Regions from separate parts of the Homo sapiens genome. Here region 2 is linked to region 1. Evidence: fine-mapped expression QTL. A gene starts in region 1. The other region holds a variant in brackets. All regions are shown on one strand. Distances are from middle to middle. Region 1 holds the start of LILRB4 (leukocyte immunoglobulin like receptor B4). Region 2 overlaps LILRB2 (leukocyte immunoglobulin like receptor B2).

Region 1 (4,392 bases):
AAGGATCCTGGGTAGAAGGACAAGAGGAGGGTGAGAGTCTGGGGTTGCCCTTGGGTCTCCACATCAAATTGAACCTCTCCCTATATCTGCCCTGCAGCTTCCCAAGGACCATTTCTCTGTCCACCTGGCACCTTCTGGACCCTAGGTGAGGGAGAAGAGCATGGGCATGCCTGGGAGGGCCCCTGTTGTCCTCCTCCCCTCTGAGGGCTGAGTCCCCCACTGGCTGAGCCCCTCTCCCTCCATCCCTGCCCAGAGCTCTCCTGGCAGCAGGGCATGAACGGAGCCACTGAGCTCAGAGAGGACAGGGTCAGGAGCCTCACCTGAGACTATGAGCTCCAGGGGGTCACTGGGGTGTGACAGCAGGTAGTGGGAGAAGCCGTGTGAGCTGAAGCACCTGTAGGTCCCCCCGTGCACTGAGGTCACAGGACTCATGGGGAATTCAGCCTGGTGCTGCTGAGCTCCGTGCTCTGATCTCAGATGCAGTAGGGGATGGGCTGCCCGCTCCTTGATCAGAAGAAAAGTGTCCATTGGGCTCCGTGACTGACACAGCAGGGTCACGCTCTTTCCTGAGGTCACAAGAGGACTCGGCAGGGCTGAAAGGGTGGGTTTACTGTAGGCTCCTAGGAGAGAAGGAGGCACCGTGTTAAATGGGGCTCCCACCTCCCACATCATCCCCAGGGCTGGGCTGTGAGAGGGAGATGCCCCTGAGAGCTGACCCCCTTCCTGAGGGCAGAGCCTGGGGCTGGGACCCCTGAGTGTCCTCTCACCTGTCATCACCAGCTCCAGGGGGTCACTGGGCTGTGACCAGCCTACAGGGCTGCGATAGTAACAGCGGTATCTCCCTGCATAGTCCTCTGTCATGGATGGGATGGAGAATCTGGCCTTGTTCTTGGGCTCCAGTGGGTTCTGTCTGTCCCAGGGTGCTGGGCTTTCCTCTTTATCCAGACGGTACTCCCGAGCCTCCAGGGTCCCCTGACACCAGATGGTCACAGAGTTCCCCCAGCTGATCACAGAGCCTGGCTCAGCCCAGAGGGTGGGTTTGGGGAGGGGCCCTGGAAGAAAATCAGAGGCTGGATCCCAAGACCTTCCTCAGCCCTCAGATCCCAGCTCTCAGCCCCAGGACCCCCCCGTCATCCTCATCAGTCACCCAGAACTGCTGTCTCCTCCCCCAGCTGCCCATGGGTGGCCCCTTGTCCCAGTGAGGAGGAGGGACCTGGGACAGCTGGGGACAGACTCACCTGCCTGCATGTGGGTCCTGGGGCCCAGACTCAGCCCTGGAAGAGAGTTCCCTGTGAGGGATTTGCCCCGGAAGCCTGAGCAGGTCCTCTCTTTACCCTGAGATTTTTTTTTTTTTTTTTTTTTGAGACGGAGTCTCGCTGTCACCCAGGCTGGAGTGCGGTGGTGCGATCTTGGCTCACTGCAAGCTCCGCCTCCCGGGTTCACGCCATTCTCCTGCCTCAGCCTCCCGAGTGGCTGGGACCACAGGCGCCTGCAACCACCCCCGGCTAATTTTTTGTATTTTTAGTAGAGACAGGGTTTCACCGTGTTAGCCAGGATGGTCTCGATCTCCTGACCTCGTGATCCGCCCGCCTCGGCCTCCCAAAGTGCTGGGATTACAGGCGTGAGCCACCGCGCCCGGCTACCCTGAGATTTTTGAGTCTCCTAAAGAACCAGGGCCTGGCTGTGAGGCAAATTTCCTCCAAGACTCGGGTCTCCCCTCCCCCTCTTTAAATCTCACCGAGGCAGAGCAGAGCCGTGAAGGTGGGGATCATGGCGTCTCCTCCCAGGGGCCCCAGCTGTGCAGATGGATGAGTCCTCAGTGCCGGCAGGACAAAGAGACACACAGGGTGTGGCCGCTTGGAGGCTGGGTCCTTCTCGTCATGGGGTTGTTCCATCAGCAGCCCACAGGAAGGGAAACTGCCCTCATTTGAACCCCAGCCTGGCTTTCATTTCCCCAGAGCTAGGGCTGAGGCAGGCACCAGGTTCTCTGCAGACATTTCAGACAGAAATGGGGTCTCTCTGATCCCAGCCTGCTGTCTGCCTGGTCTTAATTCCTCTCTTGACCAAACATCAACCCGTATGTATCGTGTGTTTGCAAAGCGCCTGACACTGGGGGTACATCATTGAACAAGTGAAAAAAAAAAAAAACCAAAAACCTGCATTTTCAGGGTACAGATGAACCATAAAGCTTCCTTTTGCTGCCATAACAAATCACCACAAGCTTAGTGGCTTCACATAATGTAGGTTTATTGACTTACCGTCCCGGAGGTCACAAGTCCAAAATGGGTCTCCCTGGGCTAAAATGAAGCTGCTATCAGAGCCGTGTCCTCCTGGAGGCTCCAAGGAGAATCTGTTCCCTCGCCTGTTCAAGCCTCTGCAGGCTCCCGCATTCCTGCCTCTCCATTCCCTCCAACCTCAAAGCCACCAGTCCCGTTATCTGCCCCCTGCTTCCATGCACTCACCTCCTTCTCTCACTCTGACCCTCCTGTCTTCCTCTTTCACTTACTCAGCCCCTTGTGATTACATCAGGCCCACCTGGGTAATCTCCCCAACCCAAGATCCTTGACTTAATCACATCTGCAAAGTCCCTTTTGCCACATAAGCTTCCCCAACTCACAGGGTCTGGGCCTCAGGAGGTGGACATCTCTGGGAGGTCACTATTCTGCCTCCCACAGGCCTTCAGGGACTCCTTTAACCAAATCTCACATAGAGCACTTCTCTGCGATGACGGAGAGTGGCTGGGCACGCCAGTCGAATGCTTGGTGGGCCAGTACGCAGCCAGGTCATGGTCGGCTACTCATGTCCCATGGGACCTGCCCACTTGAGGCCAAACATTCCATCTCCACCAGAGCCCGGTAGACATCTAAAAACTGTGTCGCAAAACAAAACTCATTCTCTGCAGCGCTAGCACGATGTAGCTCCAAAATATATATATATATTTTTTCTTTTCTGAGATGCAGTCTCACTCTGTCGCCCAGGCTAGAGTGCTGTGGTGTGATCTCAGCTCACTGCAACCTCCGCCTCCTGGGTTCAGGAGACTCTCCTGCTTTAGCCTCCTGTGTAGCTGGGATTACAGGCACCCGCCACCACTCACAGCTAATTTTTGTATTTTTAATAGAGATGGGGTTTCACCATGTTGGCCAGGCCGGTCTCGAACTCCTGACCTCTGGTGATCCGCCCATCTCAGCCTCTCAAAGTTGCTGGGGTTACAGGCATGAGCCACCACGCCCAGCCAAGCATAGATTTTAAATGTTTTCACAGATGTTAGTATGCGGAGTGATGGACATGTTAACTGTCTTGATTCCATCATTCCACAGTGTATACATTTATAACACATTGTACCCCATAAATATATATAGTTGGTGAATTAAATATTTAGTAAAATTATTTTGAAAAGGAAAAAAGCCATAAATACATAACAAGCAAGCAAAAAGGCCAGATAGCTTCAACCCTTAGATCACTGCCTGTGTAAAACACTTCAGGTGGCCAGCTCTCAATAATCATCCATTTGAGTGGGCACGTCCTGCAATGATCTGGAATTGTAGTCTGTCCTAGATGGTGACTAACCATTTTCTGTCTCTGTTCTTCTTAAAAGGATGAGAGGACCTTCTAACTTTAGAACTGAAACATAGGGTGGGAGGGGAAAGAGGAAGCAGAAAAAACAAACCCCAAATTAATTGTATCTAACGGTCAGGAAGGCAAAGAAGGAGAGGCTTGCAGGAGGCTGAAAGTCAAAGTGCCGGGAAACGCATGAACACCACTGCCCTCAGGTTTCCAAGCACCTGCTTTTAGTACCTCATTCCGTATCCTTTTGGGTCACTCTCAGAATCACGGGACAGTATCTCATTTCGAGGATTTCCATGTGTCTCTCCACATTTGTGTGTAAGGACCTTATTGGAAGCTATTTCAGCCAAAGCTTGATGCGTCTGACAGTGGCTGGGGAAAAAGAAACTCCCAGAAATGGGGGCTAGAAAGCCATACACATATTGGCGAGTATCTCCTGTTTTGGCGGGAAGTTCTGGATGATGGTCTGCACATTATCAGAGATCCTGGTGTGGACCTGTCCATATTACCTGCTGTAGTGGTGTCCGCAATGCATGCTGATTTCAGGAATTCCTCTCCTTCTCTCTTTCATAAGGGAACCCTATTCCCTTAAACTTGGTTCCCAAATCAGTTACCTGCGCTCATATCCTTGTCTTAAGTCCTGCTTTCAGAGTAACCTGTGCTAGGCAAGGACTGGGAAATGCCAGGAGGTTTTTCGATGTCATCACCCCTTTTCTAACCGCTCAACATGCCTTGCCTTTACCAGTCCTGGACTTCTTGTATTTTGCTTCTTTTTTTTTTTTTTTTTTGTGACAGGGTGACACTCTGTCATCCAGGCTGGAGTGCAGT
Region 2 (4,392 bases), 390 kb after region 1:
CATTTTTTAATTAAAGCAACAGACTTCTCAATAATCAATGAGTTAACCGAGAAAACTAAAATCAGAAGTAAGAATGTGCTTTAAACTGAATCACAATATAAATATTACACATCACACAATGAAATTGAAAAAGTACAAACCACAAATGAAAAAAGTAGAAACGAAAAAAAAAAACTAGGAAATGAATGACGTTGGCTTTCGTATAAGGAATTTAGAAAAAGAATAACCAATTATTCCAAATGAAGGTGTAAGAAAGGGAATAAGAAGAAGAAGAGTTGCTCATGAGGAAAAACCAAAACTTGAAAATTCAACAAAGCCAATGAAGCTCATTCTTGAAAATATTAATTACAGTCATAAATCCTAACTACATTGAGCAAGAGAAAGAAAGAGCAGGCACGCATTTCCATATGGGAGTGAGCCAGCAGACAGCCCAGCAGATCCTACACACATTTTCACAAACTAACCCCAGAACAGGCTGCAAACCTATACCAATATACTAGAAAATGCAGATTAAATGGATGAAATATTCAAAACTGGAGTTTACATAATGAACGTAAGAGTAATCAGAGAATCTGACTCATTTTAAATGTGTGTGTATGTGTGTGTATATATATGTGTGTGTGTGTGTGTGTGTGTGTGTGTGAAAAACATTGACTGTAATAAAAATGTTCCCATCGTATCAACTCCAGTTCAGGAAGTTTCACTGGTGATTTCTTACAAATATTGACGCACTAATGAAACACACAAACACACCCAGAGCATCACAAATGTTTCTTGAGAATAGAAAAAGAGGCAATGTGCCCGGGTGCGGTGGCTCACGCCTGTAATCTCAACACCTAGGGAGGCAGAGGCCACAGATTACTTGAGGCCGGGAGTTCAAGACCAGCATGGCCAACAAGGCAAAACCCCATCTCTACTAAAAATACAAAAATTAGCTGGACATGGTGGCGCACGCTGCAATCCCAGCTACTTGGGAGGCAGAGGCAGGAGGATCACTTGAATGAACCCGGGAGGTGGAGGTTGAAGTGAGCAAAAACAAACCCCCTACAATTCAGCCTAGGATATGTTTATTAAATTTACATTTGTCTTTTTGCTTAAGATTGCTTTGGTATTCATCCTCTTTTTGGTTCCATATGAATTTTAGGATTTTTTTCTAATTCTGTGAAAAAAATGATGTTGATATTTTGATGGGAATTGCATTGAACCTAAATATTGCTTTGGGAAGTGTGATCATTTTCACAATATTGATTCTGCCAATCCATGAGCATGGGATATATTTCTATTTTGCTGTGTCATCTACGATTTCTTTCTGCAGCATTTTGTTGTTCTTCTTGTAGAGATCTTTCACCTCCTCAGTTAGGTATATTCTTAGATATTTTTAATTTTTTGCAACTGATGTACAAGGGATTGAGTTTTGCAGCAACCTGGATGAGCTGGAGGCCATTATTCATGACACCACATCCAGCTAATTTTTGTATTTCTTGTAGAGATGAGGTTTTGCCATGTTGCCCAGGCTGGTCTTGAACTCCTGGGCCCAAGTGACCCGCCCGCCTTGACCTCCCAAAGTGCTGGGACTGCAGGCATGAGCCACGGTGCCTGGCCCATCATAGCACTTTTGATCATTAGGATAATTCCTTCTCCTTGTCATTTTTGGACACATGCTTCCCACATGCCTCATCTTCCAGAGAGGGTTTCCACCAGGGCTGTGCTGGGAGTTAAGGCTGGAAAAGGGGAGATGGTTCCACCTGCCAGTGCCACATGAGTCTACTCAGGGCTGTAACCAGCAGGGAGGGTCCAGTGTGAGCCTCAGACTCGCATGTGGGACAGACGCCCATGTGTGACAACGCTGCAGTGAATCTGTTTCACACACATGGAGGAGGCGGCTCAGGGCTGACCATGGACCTGAGTCAATGAGCAGAGATATCCCAGTGCCATCCACAAACACAGGGGAGAAGGAGCCACAACTTCCCACTTTCATCCAAAACCCCGACCCCTCCCTGTCTGTGAGGGCCCTGGGGTTCTCCTCTGTCTCATACAGAGGCAGAAACCTCCCCCTTAGTGACCCCCAGCTTTGCAAGTCACCAGCAGCCCCTCGGCGCTGGCATCTTCTGCTTCTTAAGGTTTCCTGCCTATGACAGGAAGTCTCATTTCTCATTTTCTTCATTGGACCATGGCTACATATTTCAGACACATTATAAGTAGGTTTTCCCAGTGTTAGGAGCAGATGTGGGCTGTTGAGCACATAAGTCACTCACC[G/A]TGACTGTGCAGTCCAACACCAGGATCCACTCATGTTTCAACCCCCAAGACTTAACCCGGTCTGGAAATGTACCATGACTGAGGCCCTCCCATGACCCAGGCACCACTGGCCCCCAAAACCACTCAGGAGGGGGGTTCATGACAACAGGCTCCAAATGAGGAAACCGAGGCTCAGAGATGGGACTTACTGCCCAAGGTCATGCACGCAGGGATGAAGGTGAGCAATTCAGAAAAAATTAACTCCCTATCCCACCCCCAAATCAGAGCTCAAGACAAGTACTTGTTCCCAAAACCTTGAAGGCAGACTGAGATGCAGGGGAATGCCCAAGGAAGCGGGGCTGGGGGTGGGAGGGACGCCAAGGAGGCAGGAATGACTCAGAGGTTACTTTTAAGGGAGGGGGACCTGAACACTATTAAAAAAAATAGGAAGAAAAAAAAGAAGGGAAGTCTAAGAAGGAAACTGGAAGAAATAAAACCCATACTCCAAAGACAAAAGAAGAGTCAGCATTTCTTTATTTCTCCTTTTTTCTTCTCATTGCCAATTGCAGCTCAACTTGAATTTCACAGCCCGATGTGAGATGCGTCTCTGCTGATCTGAGCCTGTCCTGCAGCATGGACCTGCAACTTTCCTGAAGCATCTCCAGGGCTGGATGCCATGGTAAGGATCCCGCAATGCTGTGTTGATGGACAGGCTGAAGGAGGGAAGAGGACCCCACAGGGAGGCTCTGAGAAGAAGAACAAGCCCCCACTCACCCTCACTTGGACAGGACAGACTCAGAAAGGTGCTGGGTCTATCGGCTCCTACGTCCTGACCCTTGATGAGATGAGGACAGATGAGGCAAATCGCAGAAAAGGGTCAGGGAGATACCATTTCTGTATGAAGTATCTGAAGACAGCCTGGTGCCTGCCCCAGTCCCAGCCTTGGGGAAATGAAAGTCAAGCTCCCGGAGAGGGCAGTTCCCCTTCTTTTGGGGCTGATGACGGGACAACCTCGTGATGGAGAACCCAGGTTCCCAGTAGATTTACTCCATCCAGGAACGGTGGCCTCATCCATCTGCACAGCTGGGGGCTGTGGAGGAGACGCCATGACTCCCTCCCACAAACCTCTGATCTGTCTTGATAAAATTGAAAGAGGGAGAGGGGAGACTGTAGCCTGGAAGGAATCCCACCTCACAACTTGGTCCTGATTGAATAGAAGACCCCAGAGGTTCACAGAGATCCCAAGGTGGGGAGGATCTGCCCAGGGTTCAGGAGGCGAATCTCTCTCAGGAAGCTCCGTGACCCCCTCTCTAGTGTCACTCCTGTGCCTCAGTGGGATTTGGAGAGGATGCCTTAGATTAGAGGGTATTGTTCAGTGGGATTTGGAGAGGATGCCTTAGATTAGAGGGTATTGTGTCTTTCAGCAACAAAACCGTACAAAAAAACACCTGGACATTTCACATCAGTGGATAAAGCATATCTTGTGCCAAATCAGGACCAAACTGCGGTGAAATTTCGGGTTCACACTACAGTTAATCGCCTTTGAGGAAAGCATTCCAGGTTGGTGCCTATCTCTGCGATAAACGTCTCCCTTCCTGGCTACAGGTAATGGATTAAAGCGACACTGGCCGAACAGACACTGTCTTCACCCGATGATTATACTGAAAAATGGCCATAAAATTGTTCCCTCCAAATCCAATTCCCTTTGTGACAACTCTCAAAAGAAGATATACGAACGGTCCACAAACATATGAAAAACATGTATGTGTATGTGTGTATATACACACACACAGCACGGAATACTACTCAGCCACAAAAAGGGACAAAATAATGGCATTCGCAGCAACCTAGATGCAGTTGGAGACCATTATTCCAAGTGAAGTAATTCAGAAATGGAAAACCAAACATCATATGGTCTCATAAGTGGGAGCTAAACTATGAGGATGCAAAGGCATAAGAAGGATATAATGGAATCTGGGGACTCACAGGGAACAATGGGAGGGGGATGAGCGATAAAAGACTACACATTGGGTGCAGTGTACACTGCTCGGGTGATGAATGCACCAAAATCTCAAAAATCACCACTAAAGAGCTTATCCACGTAACCAAACACCACCTGTTCCCCAAAAGCTATTGAATTTTTTTTAAAAAAATAAT

What was found. PIP is the estimated chance that this variant, and not a neighbour inherited with it, causes the effect.
Region 2: its variant is the best candidate, but not a certain one, in a credible set for the expression of LILRB4 in whole blood (TOPMed, PIP 0.61).

The regions. Positions count from the first base shown.
Region 1 is chr19:54,660,414-54,664,805 of GRCh38, reverse strand. LILRB4 (leukocyte immunoglobulin like receptor B4) reads right to left here and starts at 1,821. Exons shown (of 12, transcript NM_001278426.4): 1 at 1,739-1,821; 2 at 1,239-1,274; 3 at 768-1,052; 4 at 321-620; 5 at 1-7. The coding sequence starts at 1,772.
Region 2 is chr19:54,270,108-54,274,499 of GRCh38, reverse strand. LILRB2 (leukocyte immunoglobulin like receptor B2) reads left to right here. Exons shown (of 14, transcript NM_001080978.4): 14 at 1-688. Among named protein-coding and RNA genes, the nearest start is that of LILRB2, 8.8 kb to the left of the region's middle. The variant G/A (reference allele first, on the strand shown) is at 2,257.